3 linked regions of the Homo sapiens genome follow. The protein of the gene in region 3 binds, or shares a complex with, the protein of the main gene of each other region. Links are inferred from orthologs where the notes say so. Each region holds a gene or a part of one and is shown on either strand. Other genes may lie near its edges.

Evidence for each region. Proteins that work in one complex are often made in the same cells at the same time.
Region 1: the proteins of KCNAB2 (region 3) and KCNA2 are in contact, whole or in part, in a crystal structure (PDB 5WIE), measured with the Rattus norvegicus proteins. The link is inferred for Homo sapiens from one-to-one orthologs. Residues at the interface, in NP_059000.1 of Rattus norvegicus: Met193, Met196, Tyr199, Ser200, Arg203, Glu231, His234, Lys235, Ile236; in NP_037102.1 of Rattus norvegicus: Asp28, Glu33, Pro62, Met66, Phe69, Asp70, Pro71, Leu72, Arg73, Asn74, Tyr76.
Region 2: the proteins of KCNAB2 (region 3) and KCNA1 are in contact, whole or in part, in a crystal structure (PDB 1EXB), measured with the Rattus norvegicus proteins. The link is inferred for Homo sapiens from one-to-one orthologs. Residues at the interface, in NP_059000.1 of Rattus norvegicus: Met196, Tyr199, Ser200, Arg203, Glu231, Lys235, Ile236; in NP_775118.1 of Rattus norvegicus: Glu37, Met70, Phe73, Asp74, Pro75, Leu76, Asn78, Tyr80.

What each region holds. Positions count from the first base shown.
Region 1 is NC_000001.11:110,594,283-110,601,757, reverse strand, and holds part of KCNA2 (potassium voltage-gated channel subfamily A member 2), read left to right. Parts: 3' UTR 1-7,475. UniProt on the Homo sapiens protein: Voltage-gated potassium channel that mediates transmembrane potassium transport in excitable membranes, primarily in the brain and the central nervous system, but also in the cardiovascular system.
Region 2 is NC_000012.12:4,914,392-4,918,756, reverse strand, and holds the end of KCNA1 (potassium voltage-gated channel subfamily A member 1), read right to left. Parts: 3' UTR 501-4,365; downstream 1-500. UniProt on the Homo sapiens protein: Voltage-gated potassium channel that mediates transmembrane potassium transport in excitable membranes, primarily in the brain and the central nervous system, but also in the kidney.
Region 3 is NC_000001.11:6,090,699-6,099,112, forward strand, and holds part of KCNAB2 (voltage-gated potassium channel subunit beta-2), read left to right. Parts: intron 1-564; coding exon 565-609; coding exon of another isoform or gene 610-638; exon of another isoform or gene 639-3,682; intron 3,683-3,701; coding exon 3,702-3,787; intron 3,788-4,624; coding exon 4,625-4,745; intron 4,746-4,831; coding exon 4,832-4,926; intron 4,927-5,937; coding exon 5,938-6,058; intron 6,059-6,570; coding exon 6,571-6,659; coding exon of another isoform or gene 6,660-6,833; exon of another isoform or gene 6,834-6,857; intron 6,858-7,786; coding exon 7,787-7,876; 3' UTR 7,877-8,414.

The DNA.
Region 1 (7,475 bases), about 100 Mb from region 3:
TCAGGAGCAAATCCACTGCTTGGTGGGTTGGCTGTCTAAGAGGCCTAATGGGTTAATTTGTCTCATTGGTAACCCCACTGGGCCTGGGTTTGCTGCCATTGCCTCAGACACTCCGGTATCCATGGATTCCTAGACGTTAGAATTGTCTTTCTGCCCTCCATGTGCTGCAGCTTCAGTTCCCATGGCTGAAGCTTGTCTTACTGAGTGCACAAGGGCCCTGTGGCCCTCACAGTTCCAGCTGTCCTGGGCCAGACCCACCCCGGGCCTCCTCTCTACAGTTCATCCTGTTCATCATCTCCATTTTCACCTCTTCCCTTGCCACTTGGATCTTATTATCATTTGGCTCTGCATCCGTCACTTTCACAAACCTTTCGCTAAAGAGCCAGAATGGATCCCCTGCTTTGAAACCAAGGACACCAAGGAGTAGGACTCCCTGGGACCAAATTCCACTGATCTGGACCTAAAGGGAGCCTCCTCTATGTGGAAATGTCTGAAGTCCGGGACTAAGTGATGGAGTCCCTAGATGATCCAAAGGCATCATTTTGATCTCCAGACCCAAACTCTCTCCCCATTAAACTGGCAACCAGAGCTGCTTTTTAAAAAGAACCAAAGGATGGGTAAAGAATCATTTCCCACCCCCCAGAAGAAGTAGAGTGCAAATGAGCACTGCACAGCCTAAAGGTAGACAGTAGGTTGACCCTGAAATGGCTTCAGGTAGGGGGCTTTTAACTCACCAGACTGGGCGTCTTTGCCTTTTGACGGAGTAGCTTAATTTTCCCAAACAGTGAATTGCAGGGGTCGGGCTATGCAGGGGTGGCTCCAGCCCAGGCCTCACTGCTGCCTAGTTAGCACCTACAGTTGTCTTGGGGCATGGGGCACCAGCTCAGGGTGCTAGGCCCAGGGTGCTCATTAGTGCCTGGTCACCCACATCCCCAGGTATCTGCAGGGCATCCCATGCCCAGCACAAAGCCTCTGTGCTTCTCTTCCTCTCCTTCATGGGAGGTGGTGCTGAATTTCCAAGGCATGGGGTGGGAGGGACACAGATCTTTGGAAAATAGAAGGTAAAGCAACCCATATCTGAGGCCTAGGTCAGGGATAGATATCTTATCACAGTGTCCTTGGCCCAGGACTCTAAAATGTTCACATACAGTCATGCACATTCACCACAAAATAGGTACACTGTTGTCACACACAAACATAAAACATGTAACGTGCAAAATACAGACAGACCAGGTTAACATAAAAGCAAACACAGAAGATATATGGTTATAATTGTATATAAAATGCACACTCTGCACAGATATAGAATTTACACAGAACATACACAAAAGACAAACATACACCACATACAAATATACAACCTGAAACTCAGATGCAAAATACATAAAAAACTACATGGACAAAATGCATATGCATATAAGATACACAAAGGCTACTTTACCATTGTTTCTACACATAAAATACACACAAACTCAGTATATACACACGATGCATTAACTTATAATAGGCATACAAGATACATAGCACACATGCCCAAAAATATCGCACAATACACATGAAATGCAGACATATACTCAGACCCATTGCCCTGCCCCCAGAGCTATGAATTAACAGGCACAAACAAAAGATCAGATGTAATCACCTTTGCCTGGCCTGTGTCTATATCCCCCAGGATCTTTCAAGGAATCTCTTTCTCTATTCTTTTCTCTCACTACCAGATTTCACTCCTGAGAAGTAACTCCTAGGTTTCAAGCAGGAGGATGGGCCACCACATCAAGCAGATATCTGACTAAGACCAGGAATTGCATGGGGTCTCTACCAATTCACCTTCCTCCCACCAGAAACCTGGGTGCAGGGTGTGAAAGTACCTGGGACAGCTGGTAGCCTAATATAGGCCTCCTTGCCATGACCCTTCCTTCCTTCCAGCAAATCCGCACAGACAACCCAATAGCCCAGGCTCCCCTTCTCCCAGCACCTGGGATCTCCAGATTCAGCCCTATTCTCTTAAAAGCAGTAATGGCTCAAGAAACTGCAGGATCTTGAGCCCAGGACCAGGGTAAAGATGTCCCCAACATTCTCTAAGCCCACAGATTTTATTGCCCTTCCATCCTTTGCAGCTTTGTTGGGGGCACGGTCAGGAAGTTGAGACCCTATAGAGACCTGTCTCTTAAAATGAGCCACCTTTACTTGCTTGTGGCATTTCACTTGCTCTTGTGCATAAGCCCAAAGGGGCCAACTCCTGATTCCCCTCTGGGTGTGTTCAATCCCGGGCACGCTCTTCCTTTTCCTCTTGTTGGGCTCCCCTGGATGCCCTGCCTCCCATCCAATTGCTATGCAACCCAGTTCAGCTTAAGTAAAAAGTGATTAAGAACATACATCTAAGGCTAAGCAAGCTAACACTTTTTAGAGGGCCTGACTTTATCCTATATTCTAAGGCCATATTTAAATACTTTCTAAGATTACCCACCATTTTGGATTACTCTTGGAGCTGGTTCTTCCCCTAAGTAGGACTAGCTGAGAGCTGAGTGCATTTTAGCAAAGGCTTCACCTACATCGGAAGTAAAGAGTTGCAGTCAGGCTTTGGATCAGGCCTCACTCCTGATTTCTGCTCCTGCAGCCATCCCGTTGTGTCTCACTCTCCCTTCCAGTGATGGTCGCAGCTCCCAGTCTCTACAGAAAAGGTAACAACAGTAGGGAGTGGACATATGGGTCCAAAACGTGTGCTTTGCTGGAAACTTGTGTTTCCAGGTCAAGGTACCATTCCTGTTGGCTTCATCAAGTGCCTCTGTGGATTCATTTTCAAGAAACTTGGAGTTTTCAGGAGACCGAAAAGGAATAGGCCCAGGAAAGGTGGAGAGATTGTCAGGAAGAGAGAGTGGCTGAGTGGGTCAAATTTCAGAGTAAACTTTTTAGGAGCCAACATTTAATTAAGAAAATAATTAAGGCTCTGTGCTTTCTGAAACTTCAGTAATATTTGACATGCTCTCTTCCTTCTTCTCTGCTTGCCTCTGTCCCTCTCACCTGTGTTTCTGAGGCTAGTGTTGGCATGTCACCATGAGGTTAGCCTTTTAAAAGGGGCCCCACGGGAGTGTGCCTCTAGATTGCGTTAGCCTAGTATGGAAAGGGCTCCCATGGAAGCTATGATGGCCTGAGACCCCAGCCTGGGTGTTCATGTTGCTGCTCCGTGTTGGGAGGGCCCAGGACTAGCTTGTTCTACCTATTCTTCCTGGATCTCTCACTATATTATAGTGAGGACTCTATCAGTATCAACCCATGTGGAGAGAGGACAGCACCCTCTGAAGCTCCTCAGGCTGGGGATTCAGCACTGCCCACAGTAGTAGAGTCACAGAGGCTGACTCCCCCCTAAGGAAACTATAGAACAGTGTGCAAATTGCATATGAAGGTGGCACCACTACCCCTATGTCAGGCAGGGGAGCACAGTGCTTTGACTTGTTTACTCAAGAGAGGGGATGATGGTGCTGAGCTCTGCTCCCCAGAGCTTTCCTGGGGCCCATTGTCATAATAACTTGTATGTGGGTGATGGCCGCCTCATCTGCGAGGGCTATAATATCCATGGTGCTCCTTGGTTGCACAATGGAGGTTCCCCTAGCCTTGGCAAGGTATCCATTGCCGGGTTTGAACTCATGACCTTAACCTCATTAACATCATCAGTCACCTGAGCCAACGCGCAGAGAGGGGGATGCTGGGAGCTCTCTCAGTAGCTATTGTGACCATCATCTATATCTTCAGACTTAGCCCTTGTTGAGTCCAACCCTGTTCCCCTATCAAAGCAACCAGCAGGGACAGATGGAGGTAGGGGCTCCCCTACATGCAGGAAGGTTCTCTTCCTCAAACTAACCTAGTTTACTTTTCCTTTTTTTCTGCTTCCCTTCCCACCAAATCTCAGCTTCATCTCTCATAGTTTGTGTTTGAATATTTTTAAAGAGGAAAAGTGCAATAAAATAAATAGTGACTGTTTTCTTTAGCAATAGCTCTTTCAAAATCTTGCTCTCAGGACTGAAAAGTGATAGATAGTACCTGGATTATCAGATAATGCCCTTGACTTCTGGGGGCTCATTCACAGTCTCTGTAGTTTCTTCTTCTTCCCACGTGTTCACATGACTCCTGTCCTCTTGAGATCTGACCTCCTTCTGGAATGGACACATATGCTAAGATGCAGTGTATGCACAAGGAAGGCCTGTGAGAGGGCTTTGTCACTTTGTCTCCTTCCTGTGTGCACCTCTCTGTCTCCATGTGTGTCTCTGTCCCCTCTCCCTCTGTCTCCCCATTTCTGCCTGCTGTCATACAGCATCCTTACAACCTCTAGGCATGAAAATCCTAAGTTTGTGTGACCTTTTCAGCCCATTTTGTTGACTTTCCCTCAGTCTGGCAGATGTAATGGAAGCCTACACGAAAGCACTTCCCAATAGATAAGAATAAAGCATCCTGAGCCATTACAGAAGATCATTTCCATGCACTAAAAGCCATTACTTGATCCTTTTGCTTCCCCTTCTCCCTTCCCCAGGGAGACGGATGCTGAGGGAATGTGGCCTGGAGGTTTGCACTTGGGATCAGTAGCCTGGGCAGATTTGGGAATTGCCCTCTGACTCTCTTTCAAAATAAGCTGACTTGCTCAACCAAAGGGACTCCGTGAGAGCTGCAGAAGGAAGCAGGTTCTTGTGGGTTTCAGTAGAAGTCTACAGGGATAGAAGTTTGGGTGGTTAGGGCATGACATTAGTGAAATAAAGACTCTACCACCCGCTAGAGTGTGCAGCTGCACAAATATTTGCACACATAGCCAGGGGCTTCAGAAGAGTCCCCTTTCCTAACATCTGTGAGCTTAAATGTTCAGACTGGACAATCAGGGAAGGCTGGCAACCCCAGGGTCCCATTCCATCCTTTTTTGATCTACCTTGCTCTATACACATATGTACAGCAAAACCTCAGTTAACTGATGGGGAAACCTCAGGGACAGGAACATCCTGATTGCTTTGCAATTTTGGTTATTTGAGTGGGAATGGGAAAGCATGTCTGGTTCAACCTTTGTTATTGAGAAAAATATTTCCTAAGTAGGTTAGCATAACTTTCCTGCCTTAGTTAAGTAGAGTGTTTGAAGATAACAGGGACCTTGCCTTGCTCAGGGTCAACATTGTAAACCTCAATGCTTATTGTACAGTAGTGGACATAGGTAGAGAAGACCAAAGAGACAGGCTGAATGGCTGCTGGCTACAAGACAGGCCTGGAAATGGGCCACTGGGGCACATCCTGGCTCATCGGAGCCCTTGCTGTCATTTGCCTCTTTCTACTGAAAGGATAGTAAGAAAACATAATTCTTGTCAATCGAGGTTTTGGTTAATTGGTCCTGAGTTTTTAGAGGTTTTCCATATATACATATATTTATGTGTGTATATATATATATATAGTATATGTATATATGTATACTATTTTTAAATTATAGAATTATACATTGACCAATCTCCTTAGTTTCACTTATGTGGAATAAATTTGGCAATCCAAGGAATAAACTGCATTTATGTGCATTTTTTGAATGACCTCCTTTGCATTCTTTTCACCTCTCCAGTTCTACTCTTTTTTTTTCTGCTTAGGGACCTCTCTAGAAGGCAGATCTTTCATAAAAAAAGAACAGGCTACAGGATCACCTCTTTCCTTTCCCTCCCAGGTGGCTGCCTGACTCAGGGATAAAAGGGAAGTCTGATCTAACAGCCAGGTGCTTTAGCCTTTCTTCTGTCTGCCCTGGTTGGCTATAACCTCATCACTGAGGATCAGAAAAGTTATTCCAAACTTTGTACTCGAGGGGAGTGGAAAGCTTGAAGACCTGGCAAAGGATTTATCTATTTAGCATTCTCTTTGTCATTGGTGGTGCCCTAGGTTTGAGGTTTGTGAGATCTGAAAGTAACATTCCAATGAAGAACTAAAGCACATCTCTGCCACACAGAAGGTGAGGTTTGTGGCAATCAATGGAACTAACAAATCCATTCTGTTTTTTATTATGACTAAACCTAAGTTGAGGGTGTGGGTATTAGAGCAGCTGAAATTCAGTTGCCTCTTTGGGGGTAAGCTGTACACATCACTCAAGAAACAGCTGGATGCAAGCTAAAACCTGCTCTCATTCTCCCTCTTGCCTGCTAGTGTGTTAGATCCATGGAAGACAGTTTCTCTCAGCCTCACCTCTTGCATTTGACTGTTGCTTTCTACCTAGATGGGAGTGGGAGGGATTTTTCACTGTATCTGGAGCAATTGAAGTGGTGCAGGGGTGTCTGCCATCTCCCCACACCCACAGAAGCCCTCCAGTCTGGCTATGTTAGTTGTGATCAGGCAGCAGAAGCCCATAACCCAGACTTGACATGACCAGCTGGTGCACTGAGGCAGTTGAGGTGGCCTGTCTGGATGGCTACTTCTTGTACTTCATGAACCTCAGCATGGAAATGGATATAACTTTCTGTGCTCCTCTGCACTCCTAAAATAGTCTAATATGTTCCAGATGAGTTTGCAGCTGAGAACTCCCTGCATCATTCCACTGATGGATGCACAGGGCATGATTATGTAATAATGTGGACAGCTACTGCAACATCTAGATCATTGAGGGCAGTGTAGATGTGGCTGTGTGCTAGGACCCTTGGTAGCTATCCAGAGGACTCAGTCTGGTGTCTTTCTGAGTCTCTGTGAGAGGCCTCTAAGCCCTGCTTCTCCTTGAAAATGATTCCCTAGACACCGAATGCCTTGTTTGTATGAGTGAATAAATGCTCTGGGCTGCTAGAGAAAGCAATAGGAGGAGCTGGGAGGAAGAGAATATTCAGGGGCGCACTTTGCTACCAAACAATTTCCATGTCAGCTGCTAACATTACTGCCTTTTTAGCCTATGAAGTGTAGGGCAAGGACTTTGACCTGCCAGGTGGGGCTGGAAAGGAGCACATCAGCTCCAGGCTAAGAAATGGGATAGAAAAGCAAGAAGAGAGGCCTGGCTGGCTTTGGCGGGGGTGAGTCTCAGCTCCTGAGGGTTTGAACATGCTCTGTGCTTGCCCCAGTTCTGCCTTCACGTGGGATCCAGCGACCCAGTTTCCTTTTGTTGTCGTGCTTGGATGGTTCCTTCATTTGAAGGGCCCCAGGAAGCTGGAAAGTCCCATGATCAAGCTCTAGCCTGCTGAGCAAACAATACCCCAGCCAAATTGGCCTCTTCCTGGTTTTCTGCATCCCTGCACCCCTCTCTCCACTAAGGATAATCTTGGAACAGTTGCGATTAATGGTGCCAGCAATCAAGGAAGATTCTCTAGTTTTCATCAGGGACATAGCTGTAAAGCTCATGAGTGGAGGATGCTATTTCCTTTTCCAGACCTGTGTGCTTATGTGCTTATATAGGCTGCCTCTGGAGACTTTATATTGTGTGTGATGTGTGTGTATATATATATACACACACATATATATATATATGTATATATATATATAGAGAGAGAGAG
Region 2 (4,365 bases), on a different chromosome or scaffold from region 3:
AACTATCAAGTCAGTTGATTCCAGACCACAACTCTGTTACACTCACACACACAGTCGTGTCTCTGTCTCTGTCTCCCTCTCTCTCTCTCACACACACACCCACAATTATTCTTCCTGCAAAGCTTCTCAGACTGTGCATAAAAACTAGTTTCAAATCAAAACAACTTAAGTGGATATAACCAATTACTTTGTTCCCCTGAGCCTCATTTCTTGTTTTATTTTGAAAGCTTGATCCTCCTTCCACTCTAACTTCCACAGGCCAAATTCCAGTGGTCTTCACTTGGGATCTTACCTGAGACCAAACTGAATTTATCCTCAAAAGGTAACCCCCGGATATGTCCTTGGACAGCAGAAACAGACCACGTGGGCCAAAGGAAACAAGTCTGTTTCATGATCTGATCTTGGATTCACCCCACTATTTAAAGAGACCCCACAGAAGAAGGGAAGAAAAGGGCCCCCAAAAGACCAGTTAAACAAGAGACAAATAACCAGTCAAGATATTCCTTGATAAGATCCTTAAAAAGTATCTTTAATTGATGCCAAATATGAACAGATCGTAAAGTGACAGAAGCAAGTAAAATTGCATAGATGAAAACTATGCGCATCAATTAGGTTCTCAATTCATAACATTCAATGTCCTTGACCTGACATATTACACAGTTAGAGAAGGGAGAATGCGCAGTAGGTGAAGATGAGACACGTCCTTAACTCAAGGTGGAAGCAACTGGCAAACTCAAGAAATAAAATAGCGTTTTTTCAGCTTAAATGGTTTGTTGTCCTGATGGTGCACTTTAAATTAATACTACTCAATTTTTATTTTTAACCTCAGTAATACTTTATCTTTACTATTAGAGGCATGTCACATGGAGTCCATGTTGTCTACTTACATCTGCTGCATAAACAGTCCCAAAACAGTGCGCTGAAGAGAAGAAAGGTGCTTCTGCAAGGTTTGGAGAGGAGACAACTTTGACCTGGAATATTTTACAAGAGATTTCTTGTTTTGTTTTGTTTTCTTTCCATACACCATTTCTTCTTCTTTGATTGTGGTACAAAAGTTTTCTATACTCTTTGAAGTTTCACGTCATAAAGAGTAAACTCCTAGTTAGCTCCTAAATGAAAATCACTGTGACTAGGGTTAATCTCCTTAAAGCGAAAAGCCCTGAGGTCAGCAGGGCCTCACCCCTTACATACATGCTGGACTTCCCAAGAAAGCCCAGGGTCATTTTGCCTGAGCAAAGAGGCTGGCATTTAATCCCAAGGCTTCTAAACTTTATATCTGTACCCTGAATTAGTTTGCACAGTGACCCAAGGTAATGGAACAGTTTTGGTTAACAATTCAGCTCCTGTTTGCTTCTTTACAAAAATGGTAAGTAACATACATTCTTTAAAGGTTTACCTGAGTCATACTAGACATGTTCACATATACCCTGAAATTCCATGATATAAATACAGGTAGTAATATGCCACATGGTGAATGAGAGTTCACCTCCTGAGATCACAATTCAACTTGGGTTGTGTCTGGTCTTAAAATTTTAGTTTGTTTGTCTTCTTAAAATGAACATAAACATCAAAAGACTTCATTCTTGCTTGGAAAAGCCTGAAGATAACATGCTTGTTTGGCAGTTTATATTCTTTCTAACAATTTTATACTATGGATGGTTACCACCCACCAATTCTCACCACCCCAGGAATAAGTCATTCCTGGAAGAAAATGGGAAAGTGCCTTCTGCTAATGTTCTTTCTCCTTTCTTTCAATCCAATCTACCAAACTAAGAATTAAAATGTAAAATTGTTAAAAAGCATGTGTTTTGAGGTCTCCTATATTAAATGAGAGGGCTAGGAAACTATTTTTATTGACTTTTAGATGGTACCTAATTTGAAAAACGTGTAACTATACACAATGTGAAGAAGGCCTTTTATAGGCTAAACCAAATTTCTACTTTAAAAAAATGTATTCCTCATTTACCATTTACATGTATTTTTTTAATTCTCAAGCAAATCAAGATTGTGACACCACCTGTGCTTCACGTCCACCATAGTGGAATCTAAACCTGCCCTACAATTCATTTCAGGGAAATGACTGCCCACTGGCCAGAATCCTGGAGAAGGACTTGCTATTGGTTTATCTGATTCTGCAAGGCTCACCCACGAACACACTCCCAATGAGCTGATATAACTGAAAATCAGAACTCAAGTCTCCAGGGAGTGCAAGGGGAGTTGGGCACAAATGGGAAAAGGGAGATGCAAAAACAGAAAGTTTTCCTGGCTAGAATTTGTCTTCTAGAAATCTGAGGACAGAGGAAATGAATGTCTTTGGTCTCTCTGATTCAGATCACTTCAGGTGAGTTAACCACTTCAGAGATTCTGGGATGGCTAACAGCCCTGGTGTGACCAACTCTTCTATTGCCACCCTATTGAACTAGGGCCCCAATAGACTGGAAGAGAGGAATTATAGCTATCAGCACATCAGAAGTCTTCTCCTTCTGGAGAAAACACATAGTCAGGACATGAGCTGTTACAGCTCCATGCCTAGGAAGGGGAAGAAAAGGTAAAAAGGCTGCTAAAATAAATATGAATAAGTAAACCAAAAAATAGTCATCCCTTAATAGGCAGTTTTGTTAAGTGCACCTTCAGGTCTACAAAGACATTTCAACACATTACAGTGCGAGGGTAAGAGCTTGGTCAAACATTGCATGCCTATGCTACACAGATAATCCCTGTACTCCATTCTTACTGAATTCATTGCAATGAGCTACAGATGAGCTAAGCAGCATTCACTTTCCTCACACCACCCCAAACTCATAACAACAACTCACCCCCAGTCCCAGACTGACAGGTTCACCGCATGCAGCACTTTTTTCTATATCACATGCAGAAGAATCAACCAGTCCAGAGTGTAACCACGGTAAATATACCAAATACCCAAAGTCAGTCTTGGTGCCGTTTTCTCATCCATTAACCCATCCATCCCACAGTACTGAGTGGATTATTGCTGTTGACAGAGTGCGGTGTTTCAAGTTCTGTGTGCACTAGACCTCAACGTTGAAATGAAAGATCAAGATAACCCCAAGCCTGGGAGGAGGTTGGCATTTTTTTCCTAATTGGGGATTTTTAAGCAAGTAGGAAAGGAATCGCCAGAATGAGTTAAGGTTCAGACGAGAAGGAGACATCACATGGGAGGGTTTAATGCCCTGTAGTCGGATGCTGCGCAGTTCTTGGCCCCTCATCTTCCACGATGTGTGTTGTGTTCATCTCACAGATTCACAAAAGTCACATAGGAAAATAAGATATCCATGTTCTTTCTTTTAATCGAGTTAGCCAGAATGGGTGTAACTCGAGTTTCTAGGGTGATTGCCTCACTGCTAGTTCTAGGACAGGATGGGGGAAAGGGGTGGGAGAAGCAGGACAGATTTTCAGAAGAAGCTGGGCCAGAATGTCAGGTAACAGGCAGCCACATGCTAAGTGCAGAATGAAGATTCCCCACCTCAGGGTCCTTTGAAAGGCTGTGAGTACCTCTCCACCGGTGGGCAGCTGCCGAGCTCCAGAGGCCTGTGTTCCGTGGCTCTCTTTCAGCCAGGAACAGGGTCCCCACCATTCTCTGGGCTGGGTAACGGGGGGGCAGCAGAAGTTAGATGTTCAACCTGTGAAGTGACTGCCAGGTGGGAAGATCATAGGGGCATCAGGAAATATCTGAAAGGGGTAGACCAGGAGGGAAGGCCTAGGAAAGGTTATTATGAACTGAGTGTTCCCACATCCACAACAATGCCTGAAAAGACTGGACCGTCAGAGAGATTTGCAAAGTGCTGTTACCGACAGAGAAAAAAATAAGGAAAGGTGCCAGGAGCACTACACTGGACCTGAGGAAGCCTTGTGTGTCCAAAGTGGCCCTCGATAGGAAACAAATTCCCAAAAAGTTTATCTTGGCTTTGGTGGAGAGAGGAAAAAACAAGTTCACAGTTCATGTCCAGTTCAAAGATGGGTCTCAGTTCACATCCAGCGTCAGGCTGTCAAAGGGACCAATGCTAGTAGATGGCCAGAGAGACAGCACCCTCCTGGGTCTCTCCTCTCCAGGGTTTAGGGTGGTGTGGTCTTCTCACAGTGGTGAAATGAGAGAGCGAGAATGGAAAAAGAAAAAGCAAAAGGTCTGTGCCCCAACCCTTCCCCACTTTTGCTACCTAACTTCTCAGCTGTGTTAAGGAGGCACTTTCTACAGTTCACTGTGGGTACAGGATAAAGGCACTAAGCAACTATTAAATCAATTGGTTTAGTTTCTTCAGGGAGCCTCAAGGGGAGGGCTGAAGTCTCTACAGACTTCAAAGAATGACTGCAAAGAAAAAAAAATCAGCTCTGCTTCGGATGCATATA
Region 3 (8,414 bases):
GGCTGAGTCCCTGTCCTGGCTTTGGACCCAGGCCGATCCGCCCTCCGAGTCAGAGCCGCAGTGGAACTGTCCCCTCCCCTCTGCGGCTGCTATTTTGCAGCTAAGTGAAGTCGCAGTGTGGGGACTCCAACTGCGGTGTTCTCTCCAATCACCATCCATTGGGAAGCTTGGGGGGACTTTTTTGCTCTGGGGGATAAATTACTACATAGAGGAGAAGAAGCGTTCAGCGCTTTGAAAATCGGTTTTGGTTACTTTGGCGTTTTTTATTCTTTCTACTCCTGCGATCTCAGCCCCCTCCGCTCCCCCATCCTCCTGCTACAGGCGTCTTTCCATGTGTGCTTTGCTGCTGCAGGGACTTGAAAGTTAAATTGTGTTCCAGTTATTGTTTTTTATTTGTTCATATACAGCACGCACGTGCGTGTGTTGATATATTTTTTTCCTTTTTAACTAAACGCGTGTTCTGCACGGTGATTTGTGCCTCCCCGCTGTGCCTTCGTCGTGCCACGCCTCTCAGTGCTCCCAGCTATCAACTCTGGTCTCTTTAAATCTTTCTTCTATCACCAGGGGACCCATTTAGTTCCTCCAAGTCAAGGACATTCATCATAGAAGGTACACAGTGCCCCCAGCCTGACTATTGACTTCTGTGTCCAAGCTGCATTTTATGAGACAGTATTTTTATTTACATGATTCTTTTACCCCATGAGAAACTTCTCCATAAAATGCATAAAGAGGGGAAAGAGCACCCTATGAGAACACCTTGCAAGTGAAGGAAAAGCAAAGTGGTGTTGGAGCCCCTCGCCCCCAGCCCCCCATCCCCTCGTTCCTCCTTCCTCCCGTGCATGGCCCCCACCCCTGGGCTTGCACTGCTGAGCTCCGCGGCGGCCGGGGGTCCTCTTGATCTGAGGATGCTGTGATCCCCACCTGGAGCCTTGACCCTGGATGGTGCCATGGGAAGGGTTGGGGAAGACCAGGTTTCCACAAGGAGCAAAGCCATCAGGGACCCCAAAACACGCGGCCCCCCACCGAGTCTTAGCTCCTCCATGGTTTATGTTTGCTAAGCTCCTGTCTCTCCTGGAGGCAGAGATCACCTGGCTTGTCACGCTGCCCCGTCCACAGCACGCTGCTCCTCGGACGGCATGCTGGCTGCGTGTCCCCTCTCACCAGGTTGCCAAAGCGCTCCATCAACGTGGAATCATTTTCCTCCTGAAAGAATAACCACAGGAGCCGGCAGCCTTCTGAAACCAGGGGGTGGCCTCTGGCCACGCACAGTCTCTCTGCCCTCCCCACAGCTAACGGCCCCAGGACCCCACCCCAAGGGCAGGTGTCGATCTCCCTGGGCCTGGGCCCCTGTCTGCCAACTGGTGCTGCCACCTGAACCCCCATGTATTATTTGTGATGCGGCAGGAGATGCTGTGAGTTTTGGCAGCAGCTAGAAGGATTCAGTCTTCCTACTTCCGTTCAACCCCATTAAATATTGAGGTGAAGGACAGTTGTCCCTAATTGTCCCTGGGTCTGGGGCCACTGATATCACACTTGGGCACAAGTGCAGGGTGCTCCCTCATGTGGGCTCCCTGTCCAGCCTGCTTCTGCCCAGATCCTCCAGGGAGCCCAGGGGCCTTTGCCTAGGACTCCCCACCTCAGGACAGCCAGAGGCTCCTGCCCCGTCAGCCCCGTCTCTCCATCACTGCATGGAAGGGGCGCCGCAGGGCAGCATGCGGTTTCACTGGCTGGGACCTTGGAGACCTGAGACAGCTGCCGGGGAGGGAGAGTGAGGGAACGGGGCTGGCCTTGGGGGCCTTGGCTTCCCTCTGTCTGGCATGTGGACCTAAGCCTTGGCTGAGAAGAATCGGGAACTGATGCTGCATGCTCACAGGTGCCCCGAGAGTGTTTCTAAAAAACCACAAGGCCGGGCAGGCCAGGAGCCCGGACCTGGGCAGGATGTAGTCAGAGATTCTCCTGGGACCCTCTAGGTTCTCCTCAAACTTTCCCAACCAGGCACTTCCTGAGGGTCTATCGGAGTTGGCAGTTAAAGCAGGTGGCCCAGGGAGGTGGCCCAGAGAGTTCAGACTCCCTCCCAGATCTCCACCCCCAGGAGGGGACAGAGAGGATTCCCAGGAGCTACAACCTCTGACCTTGGAAGTAAGCAGAGAGCAGGGCTGGGCCTGCAAGCGTGGAAGCCAAGGGTGGTTTGCCAGGGGTCCTGGGTGAGTCTGCCGAGACCACCACTCCAGAAACCCCAGTGGCCTCAGCTCTAGCCTTTAGGAGGCCCCAGGTTCTGCTCAGGGTGGACCTCAGTAAAGGGGCACTCAGGGAGCGACCCCCAAAACAGAAGTGGACGGGAAGCCAGCACTGCCACTTTGTGGCCTCGTTGCCATTCCAGGGGGGAGCCTGCAGAACAAACCCAGCATCTTCCATCCTTCCTTCCTTCCCATCAGCCCCACTCCCAGCATTTTCAGGACCTCAGCTTCCACGCAGCATGGGCAAAGGACAAGCAGGCACTGAGGGAGAGCCAGGGCTTTTCCAGGGTCAACGTTGTTGCTGTCTTTAGAAACACTTGCACTCCCACTCACTCCCACACTGCCTTTGGCGGTCGAACTTGCAAGCACTGTATCCGACCCGTGAGAAGCCTAGCGCCATAGTCCCTCGCCCTGCAAAGCTCAGAGGCTTCTGAAATTTGAAATTTCGACGCCAAGTTCTGTTTTTAAAATCACAATATCCCCATGAGGCTGAGAGGGAGCTATAACCAGCAGATTGCTGTGTCTCAAAGCCATGTTTGAATATTGGGAAGAATCCACTGTGTCGCTGGGGCGAGGGTCCCTCCTCTCTTCTTTAAAAGGCCAGCGTGAAGTCTCCGCGATTTCATCCTCAGGGCCTTAGGAGTCTCCGCCGTCCACGATTCAGGTTGTTCCCAGGGCTCATGGAGCCTCAAAACTGTCCTACTCCAGGCCCTGGCCCCTCACAGGAGGAGCACCCAGACCCCTGTGGCCCTGGGACCACCCCTTGCCAGGGGACAGGCGGGTTGGGACTCTGGCCTGGTGCTGGGCTGGTTTGAGAACCTGGGCCATGGTCTTACAAGGCTTTCCACGCCCACTTCTCAGTCTCCTGGACATGACAGGAAACATGAGCTCAGCCCCGAAGCCCTATTCTCCGGGACCATATGGCGCCCCAGGTCCTGCCACATCTCCTTATCCAGCCCACTCTCTGTTCCAATTAGACTTTGGAATAGCCCGAAGTAGGAGACCAGAAACGCAAAAACACATGTCCCTCCTGCCGCCAATCTGACTGTAACGTTCATGCATTCACCTGGTCCTTCCTGAGTGATCGGGGCCCTCGAATCTTCCCCAGACCAGAGAACCTCCAGTTCTAGAGTCCAGAGCCACATTCTTTGATTGTCCCCTCTAATCTACCATAGAAACATCACGGTCCATCCATAACCCATTTTTCAACATTTCCATAGGCCTGTAACCAGTCGGGGAAATTGTTTTCACGACCAACTTCTAGGATTGTGGTTCACTTTTCTCTTTCATCCCAAAAAACCCCTCCCACACCCAACTTCAGAGCCAGGAAGTACACTGCTTGCAAGACATCTTCGCAGCCCCTGTCCCTCCTCCCAGCGTCCTGCCTGTATTTGCAGAATGTCCCGAGGCTGGCCCTGAGCCCTGGCTGCCCCCCACCTGCGGTTTCCCTTTCTCTCACGACAGAGACCGTCCGCGCCATGACCCACGTCATCAACCAGGGGATGGCCATGTACTGGGGCACGTCACGCTGGAGCTCCATGGAGATCATGGTACGGTGGCCGCGCAGCATGTGTGTGTCCAGGCACAGACTCCCGGCACCGGCTGCGTATGGAGACCCCAAAGCTCTGGCGGGGTCTGTGCCTTTGGTCCCAACTGCACCGATGCCTGGGTGCTAAGGGAGGGACAGGATGGTGGAGTGTGGTGGTTATGTCTGTAGGCCTTGCAGACGGGGATTCTGCATGGATCCCAGCGCTGTGTGGCCCTGGACAAATGGCTTAACGTCTCTGAGCTTGTTTCCCCACCTGTAGAACACATCTGCTAGGTGAGCCCCCATGGGGCCATTCTAAGGAGTCCCTGAGAGAGCCAGTGTGAAGCTCTTAGCAGATGCCCTGGAGCTCAGCAAGCACTCTGGGGTGACAACACCGTCAGCTGTTTCCACTGGGCTCCTGAGACGTGCCCGGTGCTGTTAGGGTCAAGGGTTCCACAGGGACCCTCTCACATGCAATCCTCACCGGTGCCTTTACCAGGTGAGTGCCGCAGGCAGCCCATTTTTCAGATGTGGACACTGTGGCACAGAGAGGTTCAGTAACATGCCAAGGTCACACAGCTTGGGCCAAGATTAACATCCAGGCTGTGTGGTTCAGAGCCTGGGCTGCTCATAACTGGACCCTCCGGCCTGGGGGTCCCACCACCCACCTCCTTTTCCCAGCTCACCAGGGCCTGCCTGGCTCCCAGGGAAGCTATGAGTGTGAGCAGTGGGGAGCCCGGGCTGCAGCTGCTGGGCCAGCCTGCTCCGGGGACACCTTGGTGCCCTCTCCATGGCTGCCCCGGCAGCCTCCCGCCTGCTCACAGGCAAGGGCCCTCGGGGTCCCTTTCTGCCTTCACAGGAGGCCTACTCCGTGGCCCGGCAGTTCAACCTGACCCCGCCCATCTGCGAGCAGGCTGAGTACCACATGTTCCAGCGTGAGAAAGTGGAGGTGCAGCTGCCGGAGCTGTTCCACAAGATAGGTGGGCACCCTCGGGCCCCTCGCCCCGCCCCACCCCACCCCTGCTCTCGGGCCCAGGGCTTGACTCCACCTGCTTTTCCTCTTCAGGAGTGGGCGCCATGACCTGGTCCCCTCTGGCCTGTGGCATTGTTTCTGGCAAGTACGACAGTGGCATCCCACCCTACTCAAGAGCCTCCTTGAAGGTGAAGGAACAGCCTGGTGGGGAGGGACGGGCAGGGGATAGGCATTTTGGACGGGTGGGACCTTTGGGCCGACTGCTTTGGTGCTGGGCAGGGGTTCCGGGAGCTGCAGCTGTTCCCACCTCGGTCTGCTGGGGGCGGGCTCCTTGGCGTGAGAACATGGAGCCCCTCCTGGCCTGATCCCATGTGTAGAGGGGCTGCCCAGCCTGTGGCACAGGCCCAAGTGGAGAGGCCCTTTCACATCCCCCCCCCTGCCCCCACCACATCCCCCCATCTCTACCCCCTACCACATCCCCCACCTCTGCCCCCCACCACAGCCCAGCATTCAGAACTCTGAGACCCCTGGGCCTGGGCTCCGAGATGGGGGCTGCAAAGCCACATGGAGGTGACCCTGGGAGAGGCGCCCCTCCCCACCACACAACCTCTGAGTGGGGACTCAGGAGGGTCCCCAGACTGCAGGATCTGGAGAACAAGGAGCAGGCCAAGAAAGTCTGCCCAGCCAGCAGTCTCAGCACTGGGGCCCACAGCCCTGGGTTCCAGGGCAACGTGGCCTGGCCCCCGACTCCTCCCATCCCATGGCAAGGTCAGGGCCCCCCTCCAGGAGGCCCTGCAATCCTCTGGGGGGGATGGCCAGGGGAGAGAGCACTCCCCTAGGGCCAGGAGGTTCTTCTGGGCCACGGGTGGCAGCCGAGACCCCAGGCTGCCAAGTTTCCTAAGAGAAGGAAGGCCAGCACCTCGCCTCCTTGTCCTGACTTGGGGTTGGGCCAGCACCACAGTCTTTGCACTTCAGAGCCTGGACAGGCCCCGCTCATCCACCAGCCCGTGCCCGGCCCACTGCCCACTCTCCCCTACTTGAGAGGCCTGGGGCAGGGGCACTGCCCTGGCTTCAAGATGAGAAGAGCCCCTATGAGGGAGAAGGGTCCAGAAGGAATGAGCCCATCGGCCCCCTGCACGTGGGGGTCCAGGTGACCTGCTCTCATCTGTAGCTGTGCTGCTCCCCTCCCCCGCAACCAGGGCTACCAGTGGCTGAAGGACAAGATCCTCAGTGAGGAGGGCCGGCGCCAGCAAGCCAAGCTGAAGGAGCTGCAGGCCATCGCCGAGCGCCTGGGCTGCACCCTGCCCCAGCTGGCCATAGGTAACGGTGGGGTCGCCATGGGGCCAGTGCCCCTGGGGAGAACCTGCCCCAGCTGGCCGTAGGTAACAGGGTGGGGTTGCCATGGGGCCAGTGTCTCCGGGGAGAGAGGGAAGGGATCCCTGGACATCATCCCCCAGCCAGCCTCGGGTAATCGGGCTCTAAGGGGCATGGTTGGGACCCCATGCCTCTAGGGGGATGTCAGGAGTCCCTGAGGACCTGGGCCACCCCCTCCATCTGCCAGCCATAGGTAATGGGGCTCCCGCTTTCATGGGAAGAGGATGGGGAGCGCTAAGCACTTGGGCCACCTCTCCATCAGGGAGCAGCGGGCTCCCCCATGCCTCCTCCAGCCACCTCTTAGACAAAGCCCGTGCCCAGCACTGCAGGGCTTCCTAGACCCCCTCAGACCCCCAGACCAAGATGCTGGGTCTCTCGGCCCAGTCAGAGGCAAGGCAGACCCATCAGGGGCCCCTGTGGTGGGTGTTTCTCCCTCACCTTGGGTCTCGCCGCCACAGCCTGGTGCCTGAGGAATGAGGGAGTCAGCTCCGTGCTCCTGGGGGCCTCCAATGCGGACCAGCTCATGGAGAACATTGGGGCAATACAGGTAAGAGTGAGAGGCCCTGCTGGGCAGAGGGCCCATCCCAGCCCGAGCCCCGTCCAGTGCATCCTCCCAGGCTCGTCCTGCGTGCCAGGCTCTGTTCTAGGCACTCAGGATGCGCCCGTGAACCATCAGAGTTGTGCTCCTGGAGAGCTTGCTTTCCAGCAGGAACAGACATGAACACTAACTGCACGAAACAAGGAGGTTAGAATGTGTGTCAGGGTGGACGAGCGCTGTAGGAGAGAAGCCAGAGATAAAGGGAGGGAGCTGGGGCCAGGGACGGTGGCGCTGCAGACTCAGGTTCAAGGGGGCCTGTCAGGTGGGCTTGTTGAGAAGGTGGTGCTTGAGCAGTCTTGAGAGATGCGGAGTAAGTCACGCAAATGCCTGCGGGAAGAACCTTCCACCAGCAGGAAGAGTTGATGCAAAGGCCCAAAAAGGCCTGGAGCAGAGGGGCAGATCCTGAGAGGCACGAAACACCTCCAGGGACTTCTGAGTGAGACGGGAGCCGTGGCAAAATTGTGGGCAGAGGAGGGCGAGCTGCAGCTCAGCCTGGAAAGGGAGGCTGCTCTCCGGCTGCTCCATCGGGGAGGCTTTGGGAAGCAAAAGTCGAAGCAGAGAGCCCTGGTGGGAAGTGGCAGCTGCGGGTCCGAGACGGGAGTGGTGGTTGGATCCTGGATGTTTGGGAAGGTGGGGCCCCCGGGACTGGCTGACAAACTGGATGTGGGGGTGAGAAGGCGAGGTGGAAGTCGGTCCCCGGGTGTGTCACCCGGAAGGGTGGCGGTGCTGTATGCTGAGGCAGGCGCAGCTGGAAAAAGCAGTCACGGACATGGAAGTCCAGCATTTGGCCTGGAGTTTCCATTTTATGTCACTGCTGCCACCACCCTTCAGGAAGGTTCTAGGGCACCTTGACATTTGAGAGGGAGTGCACAGACCCAGGCATGCTTCCTCTCTGCCCCAAACCTTCTGAAACACAAAAGCAGCGTGGCCTCCATCTGCCTCAGATGGAGCCCAGATGTGATGGGGCAACCCGGGCCTGGCCAGCCGACCATCTGGAAGAGCCTGGCCCCACCTCCTCCCCAGGCCAGGCCCGTCTTGTTGGTGGGATTCTGATTTGTTGTTGTTCTTGCACGCAGGTCCTTCCGAAACTGTCATCTTCCATTATCCACGAGATTGATAGTATTTTGGGCAATAAACCCTACAGCAAAAAGGACTACAGATCCTAAGCCGCCCCCGCCCGCCTGCTCGGACAGTTTCCGTTCCCTCCTAGTCTCTGTTCGCTCGCTTAAGCTGTTTTGAAGCCAAGTGAAGAGTGTGGTTTGCATCCAAGAGAAAACACCACACTGTGATGTCATCGGGAAATGATCTCCCAAGTCGCTGCCAGACACCACCCACTGCTTCGCCGGACAATGTCGAAGTCCAGTCTGTGCCGGGGAAGGCACTGGTTAGGAAGGATGTTCAAACGGTCCCACCCAAGCCTGTCACCTCTGCTCATCCTCCAAGACCACCCAGCTTTCTCCCAGCCACAGCCAAGATTCCCAAAGTCAAGGCCCAAAGATTTCCAAGGTTCCCAAAGTCAAGGCCAGGCCAAGGCCTGGTTGGGTCCTTGGGGCGGGCAGGGCCAGCCTCTCCTCTGCTGAGAATCCCCACTTGGTGTAGGGGGAGAGGGGAAAGGGGTCTGGCCCATCGAGGGGCCCCTTCTGCCAGGGCCTTGGTTGCTGGGGCAGGGCCTCCCCACTGGGGGTCTTCCTCCACCTCCCACTT